Linked DNA regions of Homo sapiens: region 1 is linked to region 2. Evidence: fine-mapped expression QTL. A gene starts in region 2. The other region holds a variant in brackets. All regions are shown on one strand. Distances are between the middles of the regions. Region 1 overlaps TG (thyroglobulin). Region 2 holds the start of CCN4 (cellular communication network factor 4).

Region 1 (4,387 bases), 190 kb after region 2:
AGGGTCAAGTCCCAAATATAATTTAGACTTGAGTTCTCCAAAAATGAAGCTAATACTAAAAACCTACCTCCACTAAAATACTCAGTCTGGTCTAATTCTAGTTTTTGTTTATCTGGCTGGCTATATTTTTGGTCTGTGTAACAATATCTGGCCCAAGAAAAATTAAAGACTTTAACGGGCACAAAAAAAGCCTTGTAAAAAATCCCCAAACTAATTGATCTACACACTCAATGGAAACAAAAGGACTCCATAAACTTAAAAAAAAATTTAAAAACACATTAAAAAAACTTACAAAGTCAACTCTTGTGTTTTCTTCCGTCCCCGCCTCTCCTCCCCCTTCTCCCGGTCTTACTCCTTCCAGCGCCACTCCAGTCCCATGACATTTCAGACTTAGCATAAAAATAAAGTCCATAATTTTAAAGGCCTAAATTAAAAAGGCTCTGTCTTTTGAACTCTGCCTGCTTTACTAAATTCTTGCAATAAAAAATAAATCATCCCAAACTAAAACAACAAAATACCGGACAGCCAACCTCCAGTCAACACTTCAACAAATATCTCCCTGGGTGACAGGAGTTTACTAAAAAAAAATTAACATAAAAATGGCCAAAATAAAATTGTGAAACCTTAAAACGTGCCAGGTTTTCTGAGATTCCAACTGACTACATATTATGGCCCATTCTAATACACATTTTAAAACCACTGGCCAAATCACATTAAAAAATTCAAAACTGAAATCGTGATTCAAAAAACCTATAACTAAAAAATTAACATCTCATCTTTTAAATTATTTGCCTATTTTTTCCTGTTCAAGTCTACTGGCTTTTCTATTACTATCAAAATACAACTGACTATTCATAATATTAATAGGCTCTTTGTTGTGTGGTTACTTTGAAAACAGGACCAAAACTATATTCCGGTCTAGCAAGGATATGCCTCCACGAGGCAGTAGATTGGAAACCTGCGGTATTAACTAAGTCAGCTGTGTATATTTGTTCTTTCAATCATGTATTCATTCAACAACTATTTACGGGCCTCCTCTGATACTCCAGGACTGTACCTGACAGCCAACGGTGGCAGCCTGGAAAAACAGTCTAAGAAGCCAAAACATTTAAGATGATTCTTACCCGTCCATCGTAGTTCTCAAACTTGGGTGAGCATCAGATTCTCTTGAGAAATGTGACAAGAATTCCAAAGTCCAGGCCCAGTTCTCACTTCAAAGAGCTGGGGCCTCTGTAGTCTATTAACTTTCCTGGTGATTCCGACACACGTCCAAGTTTGAAAATGACTGTGGTCTCTAAGATATCCTTTTTGGTTTTGGTTTTGTTTTGGCCATGATTGCTGGAGACACAGCTTAGGCTAGTGAAGAAACAGTTCTGAGTTCTAAACCTCACTCAGCCTGACACTGTGTGTCCTCAGGCAAGTCCCTTAACTACTCTGAGAAACTCTAATTTTAAAGATCTTTGTGTTACGCATTGCCCTTGTTCATGATCTCTAATAAGCATAATGTCTCTCTGTAGATGACACATGGACCATTGCGTTTGTGGGGTAAATTAATCCATCAGCACCTTTGCTCTGAGGCCCTTGGATCCAGGCCTCAGGAAAGGAGTTCTTTTCCTCCAGTGCAGGGAGAAGATGGAGTAGGAGGGAGAGGTGAGCCGAGAGGAAAGCCGGACAGGTTGGCTCCTACACAGTGACTGTCCTGCCTGGTAAGAAGGGATGCCCTCCATGCTCACTGGCATGCTCCCTAGTGGTGCGAGACCACACAGCCCTCTGCACACCTCCCGGGGAGCCAACGCTGGTTAGAGAATAACATCAGGGCCCCCTTATATTGCCAGAAACCAGAGAAGAGTTGAACACACCCAGCAGCTGACACTAACAATTGGCTATGAGTGTATGTCAAAAATGGGACACAGTAAAGCAGCCAGACTACACTGTGTGACTTTGGGCAAGCCACTCCCCTTCTCTGAGCCTCAGTTTCCTTATCTATAAAATGGTGATATTAAATGACTGTCTCTCCTAGGGTTGTAACCACAAATGAATGAGTTACTAGATGTGAGCTGCTGCCCAGGGGAAATGCTCAGCAAACACAGCCACCTTCACCGTCTCTGGGTCAAGCTACTTGGTTCCTGATGCAGTCTGGACACTGTTTTTTCAAAATGATGGGGCTCTCAGCCTGGATGGAAGTACCAGGGGTGTCCTTTAAGGGGCACAGGAGCCCAAACTACTGCCAGTTATGTCCCCACCAAACATCTGACTCCTGACTTCCACCTGACCCCTCCTCCCCTCGCCCCACTGTCCCCCTGTCCCCCTGTCCCAGGGCAGCTTGCTTCCTGCCCAG[G/A]AGGGCCTCCACAGCCTCTCACCTCCTGCGCAGTGTGCCTGCGGTGCCATGGGCTGGGCCTCAGTTTTCATGGGAAACTTGCTGCTGAATTGCAGCAACATCTATAAACTTCAGTGTTTCAAGGTTTCACGAGCTTAGCAAGTCCCAAAATGAAGCCATTACTGTCCCCCAGTGCTCCTTTTCACTCGTACACCATGTTCTTTCTTTCCTCAGGGAATGTTTCCACCACTCCCTCCATTGTCCAAACCAGAAATCCTATCATCCTTATCGCCTCCTCCCAGTGGAGTCTACATGCTCAGCCCCTCTAGGAACTGTCTTTTCTTTTCCACCTGGTTCTGGCCTCATCAATTTCACTGCAGTTACCATGCAGGCTCCAAACAAGGGCCTCCTGATCATGAGTCTCAGCCCACTCAGGCCATTCTCATGCTGGTGCTGGGATAACCAAAACCGTTCTAACATCCGCATCTGGTCACAGCACTCACCACCTATGGTCCTCCAGGGTACCAGGCAGATGTGTGGTTGGCAGGGTCAGTCACTCCAGCTGCATTGCAACCCTCCACTTTTACAGGGTGGTCCTGTGTGTCCCCTACTCTCACCCACTCACCAAACACAACACACATTCAGAAGTGAAAACAATATCGATTTACAATGTAATTTCAGTTACTTATGTTAACTCGCATTGATCTTCATAACAGATGGGGACACTGAGGCACTGGAGGAAAGACCACAGGATACTCCCCCAGACCATAGAGACACCACCTAAGATTATAGAGGCATCATTCAAGGTTACAGAGGCACCCCCAAGGTTACAGAGGCAGCCCCAGGTCACAGTGCAGAACTTAGTTGAGGTCCTACCAGCAGGACACAGGAACTGTGCTTTTCTTCTGCTGTGCTATATAGTCTTGGATCTCCTCATTGAGGTGGTAATTGACAGATCAGCCCTCATTCCCAGCAGCTAGTAGGCACCTTCCCAGCCCTTATACAGCCCCACAGCATGGTGGTTAAAGGTCTTGGTGACTCTTTCAGTGAGTAGGAGTAGCTCACCAGAAGGCCCTAAGCCTTGGAGGAGAATATGCCCTTGGAAGTAAGAGGCCTTGCCCCTTCCATGGGCAGAGGGGCAACAGTGGCCCTGAAGGAAGAGAGACTCATTGAGGTCATACAGCCTCTTTCCTCTGTGACCAGATAGACTAGCAATGAGTGCTACTATCTATTTAGCAGGTAAGAAGTGCTTAAAAAGTCATGTAAAGATTAACTGGTTCCATCTAATGGTACTTCATTGAGATGAACTGTCCTAACCCTACTTTATAGGAGGGAAAAGTGAGGTTCACAGAGGGCCACTGACTTGCCCAAGACCAAACAGCTGAAAGGCAGGCAGCAAGTCAGTGTTTGCACCCAGGACAGCCCTATATGGTGATACCCCCTGCAAACCAGAGCTGCTGAGGGGACAAGGGCAGAGGAGAAGGAAGGGTCTGGGAGGGATGATGGGGGCAGCAAAGAGGCAGGAGGTGATGGGGGCAGCTTGGGTCACCTCACAACCTGGAGGCAGCACAGCTGCAGTCTCTGCACAGGCGGGCCTCTGGGTGACATGGAGGCACTTCTATTCCTTTCTAGAAAGCACCATATCCCCTTTTTTAAAGCTTAATTTTTATTTTTAACGGACAGATTATAATTATACATATTTATGGGGTATAATACAAGGTTATGATATATGTATATGATGCAGAGGAGTACTTTTTGAGATCTATTACACAGCACAGTGACTATAGTTAACATATGGCACATTTCGAAACTACTAAGAGAATCAATTTCAAATGTTCTCACCACAAAAAAAAAAAAAAATAAGTATCCGAGGGATGGCTGTGTTCATTTGATTGATTTAAGCATTCCACAATGATTCCCTTTTTTAATGGATACTAAGTAGAAAAAAATTATGCTAGAATATATTTGAAATTTTCCATTGATATGTAGATAATCGTGTTTAATTCTCTTTTCTTCCCTCCTTCACTCTCTCCCTCCCTCCTTCCTTATTTCCTTTCTTCTCTTTCTTTT
Region 2 (4,387 bases):
ACTGGGGCTCCAGAGTACTTGGACTCATGCTTAAACCTCTCGCCTCCTCTGCCCACTCAGACTTTGGCTTCTCTCAAACGCTCACCTTTTCTCCATCCTCTCCCTGCCCTCCCAGACATAGCAACCTGCAAAGCTATACCCAAATAAAGGCGCAGCCATACCCAGAGCCGAAATAAACAGCGACTTAGCTCCTTCTGGGCACTCCTGTAGGACACAGTCAGCTTCCCCTAAGTAGGAATGGTTAGAAATTGGCATCAGAAGATCTAAGTTTGGGCCCTGGCCACTTATTAATGAGGAGCTCCTGGGCAAGTCCTTTACTTGCTCTCACTTTCCATTTCTTTCATTTGTGAAATGGAGCTGATAACTTTCTGGTAAGGTGGTTCTGAACCAACTATAGTCAGGCACCATGCCAGGCGTGAGGATTTAACCAAGATGAAACAGACCCACTCCCCGCCATCATTACACACACCGAGGCATTGAGAGGAATTCCTATTTCCCAGGTCTCAGTTTGCTGTCGGCTCTCGGCCTCAGTTCTGGCTGAAGCAGACCTAGAGTCTGATTCTGGCAAGTGGTTTAACCCCAACACACGGTTTCCTTATCTGTGAAGGGGGCTTCTTAACCCCCAAGGAAGCCATCAGTGTCATTTGGGGATAAACACTCTTTTGCCATCACCCCTCCGTCTCTAGGCTGTTCTGCCAGGAGCAGGTCCTGCCCTGGGCTGTGGAATCTGGGGCTCAGAAGCTGCCAGGTACCCACCTCCTGCCCTCCTTGCACTGCCTGCCTCTGCCTTTTCCTCACCATGCCTGGCCCTAGCAGGCTGGCTCTACACGGTCACATATGTGACTCCCCTGGCTTTTGGAGGTGCAGACCTTTGTCCCTTCCCCTTGGTGTACCCTGGGGTGCAGGTGGAAGAGAGAGAGACTCTGGGGTGCCCACATCACCCCCACCCTGGAACAGCAGGCTTCATAGGCAGGACCCAAGTATGGACACTCTGCAGACTGCAGAGGGCTGTGCAGACCGGAGGTGACAGCAGTTGGGGTTAGACATCACCCTGAGCACTGTTTGCTCAATAAGGAGCTTTTGTTGAAAGCTGGCATTTTTCTTTCCAATTTTTTTTGGCTTTTTCCATCTCCCATCTTCGCAGCATCTCCAATGCTTGGAGTCTTGGAGTTTTCAAACTCAGAGACTCTAGAAGTCACCTAACAACTTCGTCGCTTTACGCTGCTCCTGGAGGGTGAGTGACCCACCCGAGGCCACACAGCCAGGTTAGGCGAAGACGGGTCTGGAGCCCGGGCCCCTGACTCCCAGTTCTGCTGAGGGCCCCGTTCTTTCTGCACTGTTTCAGGTGGGGAGAGAGGGCAGGCTGGACCTGTGCAGTTTGTTTCCCCAAGTGTCGCACCGTCCTCCTCACCCTGCCAGCTTCAGCCAACCTGGGCAGCTGACTCCTCACCCTGGGCTCTGTCCTTGCCCTGTAAGTGGCCACCTTCCAGCCCCAAACCTTCCTGGCCCTTTTCATCCTGCCCACCAGCCCCCATGTAGCAGGACCCAGTAGAGAAGGGAGCTGGGTCTCCCTCTGAGCCCCTCCAGGCAGGACTCACCGTGGCCAGGACGGTGCTGGCGGCTGCTGCTGTCACTGCTGCCAGCGTCCAGGGCAGGAACCACCTCATGCCTGGACGTCAGTGGCACAGGCATCGACCGAGCAGCCCAGAGGATCCGACCACCTCTCGGGGGAGCTGGGCCCAGACTGGCCGGCCCATCAGGAGCACCAGATATGCCTCTTCCGCAGCCCTTGGGGGGTTTTATTAAAGCAAGATCTGACGTCAGGGTGAAGGACAAACCCTGCATTTTCCTCTGAAAAAACTTTTCCTGCCTCTCTCTCTTTTTTTTTTTTCTTTCTTCCCTCTGTCCCCACCTCCAGCCTGAGCTTGGCCAGCCTCCCCAGCTCTGACAGTTCTTAAAGGGAAAGTTACAAGGCTATGACTTCACACTAGGGTGTGAAATTCTCACAGAGGAGCTGGGGTCATCCTGCCTAGGTCTTTCACTACTGTAGGGAGGGGGGAGCATGGGAGGGTGCAGGATGTCCGAGGAGATACTGTTACCCCAGGCAGGCGGGTGTGTGGGCTTTGAGAGGGCTCCCAGTGGGAAATCAACTCCCTGTCATTTCTTCAGGCTGCTCCTACTTCTGGTTTTCTTTTTCCTTTTCTTTTTCTTTTTCTTTTCTTTTCTTTTTTTTTTTTTTTTTTTTTTTTTTTGAGACAGAGTCTCGCTCTGTCGGCCAGGCTGGAGTGCAGTGGCGCGATCTCTGCTCACTGCAACCTCTGTCTCCCAGGCTCAAGCAATTCTCCTGCCTCAGCCTCCTGAATAGCTGAGATTACAGGCATGTGCCACCACACCCAGCTGATTTTTGTATTTTTAGTAGAGACGAGGTTTCACCATGTTGGCCAGGCTGGTCTCAAACTCCTGACCTCAGGTAATCCGCCCACATCAGCCTCCCAAAGTGCTGGGATTACAGGCGTGAGGCATTGCGCCCAACCCTACTTCTGGTTTTCATTTGCCCTCTTGCACTCCCCTCTACCTAGCTGCAAGCGAAAGAGGTGGCTTTCAGTCCACCCATCTAGAGATGATAGGAATTCACAAATAAAATGAGCTCTGAGGCTCAGGTTACAGCATCACCTTCATGACACGTGAAAGCCACGGTAACGCATTTGCTGTTTGCCGTCTCTGCTCATTGGTCAGAAGCCGTTTGGTGCTGGAGCTGTCCCCACGTGTCTCTGGATGCTTGCTATCCCTGGGGGGTTGGGTTTCCTGGCCTGTACCCTTATTGCACTGCTGCCACTGAGTCTCTTCCTTGGGCAAGAAAGGAGATGGGATGTCTTCTATGGGCTGTCCTAGTCCAGCCCTGTGCTCCCCATGGGGACCGCTGCCACAGCCTCCTGACTGATACCCAGCCTCCCTGCCCACCTTCTACCATCCACACATCTCAGAGCAATCCTTGAACTAGCGTCATGTATAGATCATCTTCTGGATACAACTGTCCAAAGCCTGCCCATCACACAGCACAGAGTCCCCAGTCCTGGCGTGGCCCCTGGGCCAGCCAGCTCCCTGTACACTTCTTCCTCTCTCCCTTTCGTGCACCATGCCCAACCACAATGGCCTCCTTGCAACTCCTCTCACACCTTGGCAAGTTCTCAGCATCTCCAGGTCTCAGTAGGAATACTCGACACTGAGGTTTAAATGACAGTTACTCCTTCTCTTCTCTTTTCCTGTAGCTTATTAACAAGGGATGCTGAAGCATGTGTGGCTGCTTGGAGGTAGCAGCAGGCTTGTGTTCATGGAAGAGGTTTATGATCCCTATAGACATGACCCCAGAAGAGATGGTGCTCATGATTTCTCCATTTACTGACCTGGGGATGTGCCTCTGATCCAATTCCGGCCAATGAGACATAAGGGAAACCTGCTAGGGTCTTCTAGAAAAGATTCCCTTCCTCAGGAAGAGAATGACCATCTACTCATTCTTTTCTTTCCTTGTGTGCAAATGTGATGGTTGGAGCTGCAGCAGCCATTTTGGGTATATGAGGCTGAGAATAAAAAGTCAACAAATTGAGGATGGCAGAGTGGAAGCAAAAAAAAGGTCTGAGTCGTTGGGACTTCATGTTGTTGTTGGAGCCACCATTCAGACTTCTCATTACATGAAATAATTTAATATTTTATTGTTTAAACTGTAGTTAGTCTGAATTTTCTTTTGTTGGAGTCAAGTTGTATACTAATTGATACATGAGGATTACTAAAATCATATATGTAAAATTAAAGGGCAGGGTATGTGGGGGGCATGTAAGGACTGCCCAATAAATGTCAGTCATTTTCTTCTCATTAATTTATTGATGCTTAAAAACAAATCCCAGGCTGGGCACGGTGGCTCACACCTGTAATCCCAGCACTCTGGGAGGCCGAGGCGGGCAGATCACAAGGTCAGGAGATCGAGACCACCCTGGCTAACACAGTGAAACCCCGTCTCTACTAAAAATATAAAAAATTAGCCAGGCATGGTGGCGGGCACCTGTAGTCCCAGGTACTCGGGAGGCTGAGGCAGGAGAATGGCGTGAACCCTGGAGGCAGAGGTTGCAGTGAGCCGAGATCGCGCCACTGCACTGCAACCTGGGTGACAGAGCAAGACTGTCTCAAAAAACAAAACAAAACAAGCAAACAAACAAAGCAAAAAATAAATCCTAGGAGGCCAGCATTGTTGACAGGTGTCATTAATAAATAACCCAAGGTGTTAGGGGCCAATCTAGGCTCACTTGGCTTTTGATGAACACTAAGTATGAACGGGCTCTGTGCTGTAGAGCATCTCATGACTACAAGGCAGACAGTGTTATGAAATAGGTGG

The links. PIP is the estimated chance that this variant, and not a neighbour inherited with it, causes the effect.
Region 1: its variant is the best candidate, but not a certain one, in a credible set for the expression of CCN4 in lung (TOPMed, PIP 0.51).

What each region holds. Positions count from the first base shown.
Region 1 is chr8:133,003,201-133,007,587 of GRCh38, reverse strand. The region is part of intron 35 of TG (thyroglobulin); the gene reads right to left. Among named protein-coding and RNA genes, the nearest start is that of MIR7848, 41 kb to the left of the region's middle. The variant G/A (reference allele first, on the strand shown) is at 2,339.
Region 2 is chr8:133,188,425-133,192,811 of GRCh38, reverse strand. It overlaps CCN4 (cellular communication network factor 4), which reads right to left and starts at 1,773. Exons shown (of 5, transcript NM_003882.4): 1 at 1,599-1,773. The coding sequence starts at 1,667. RefSeq lists a silencer at 654-901.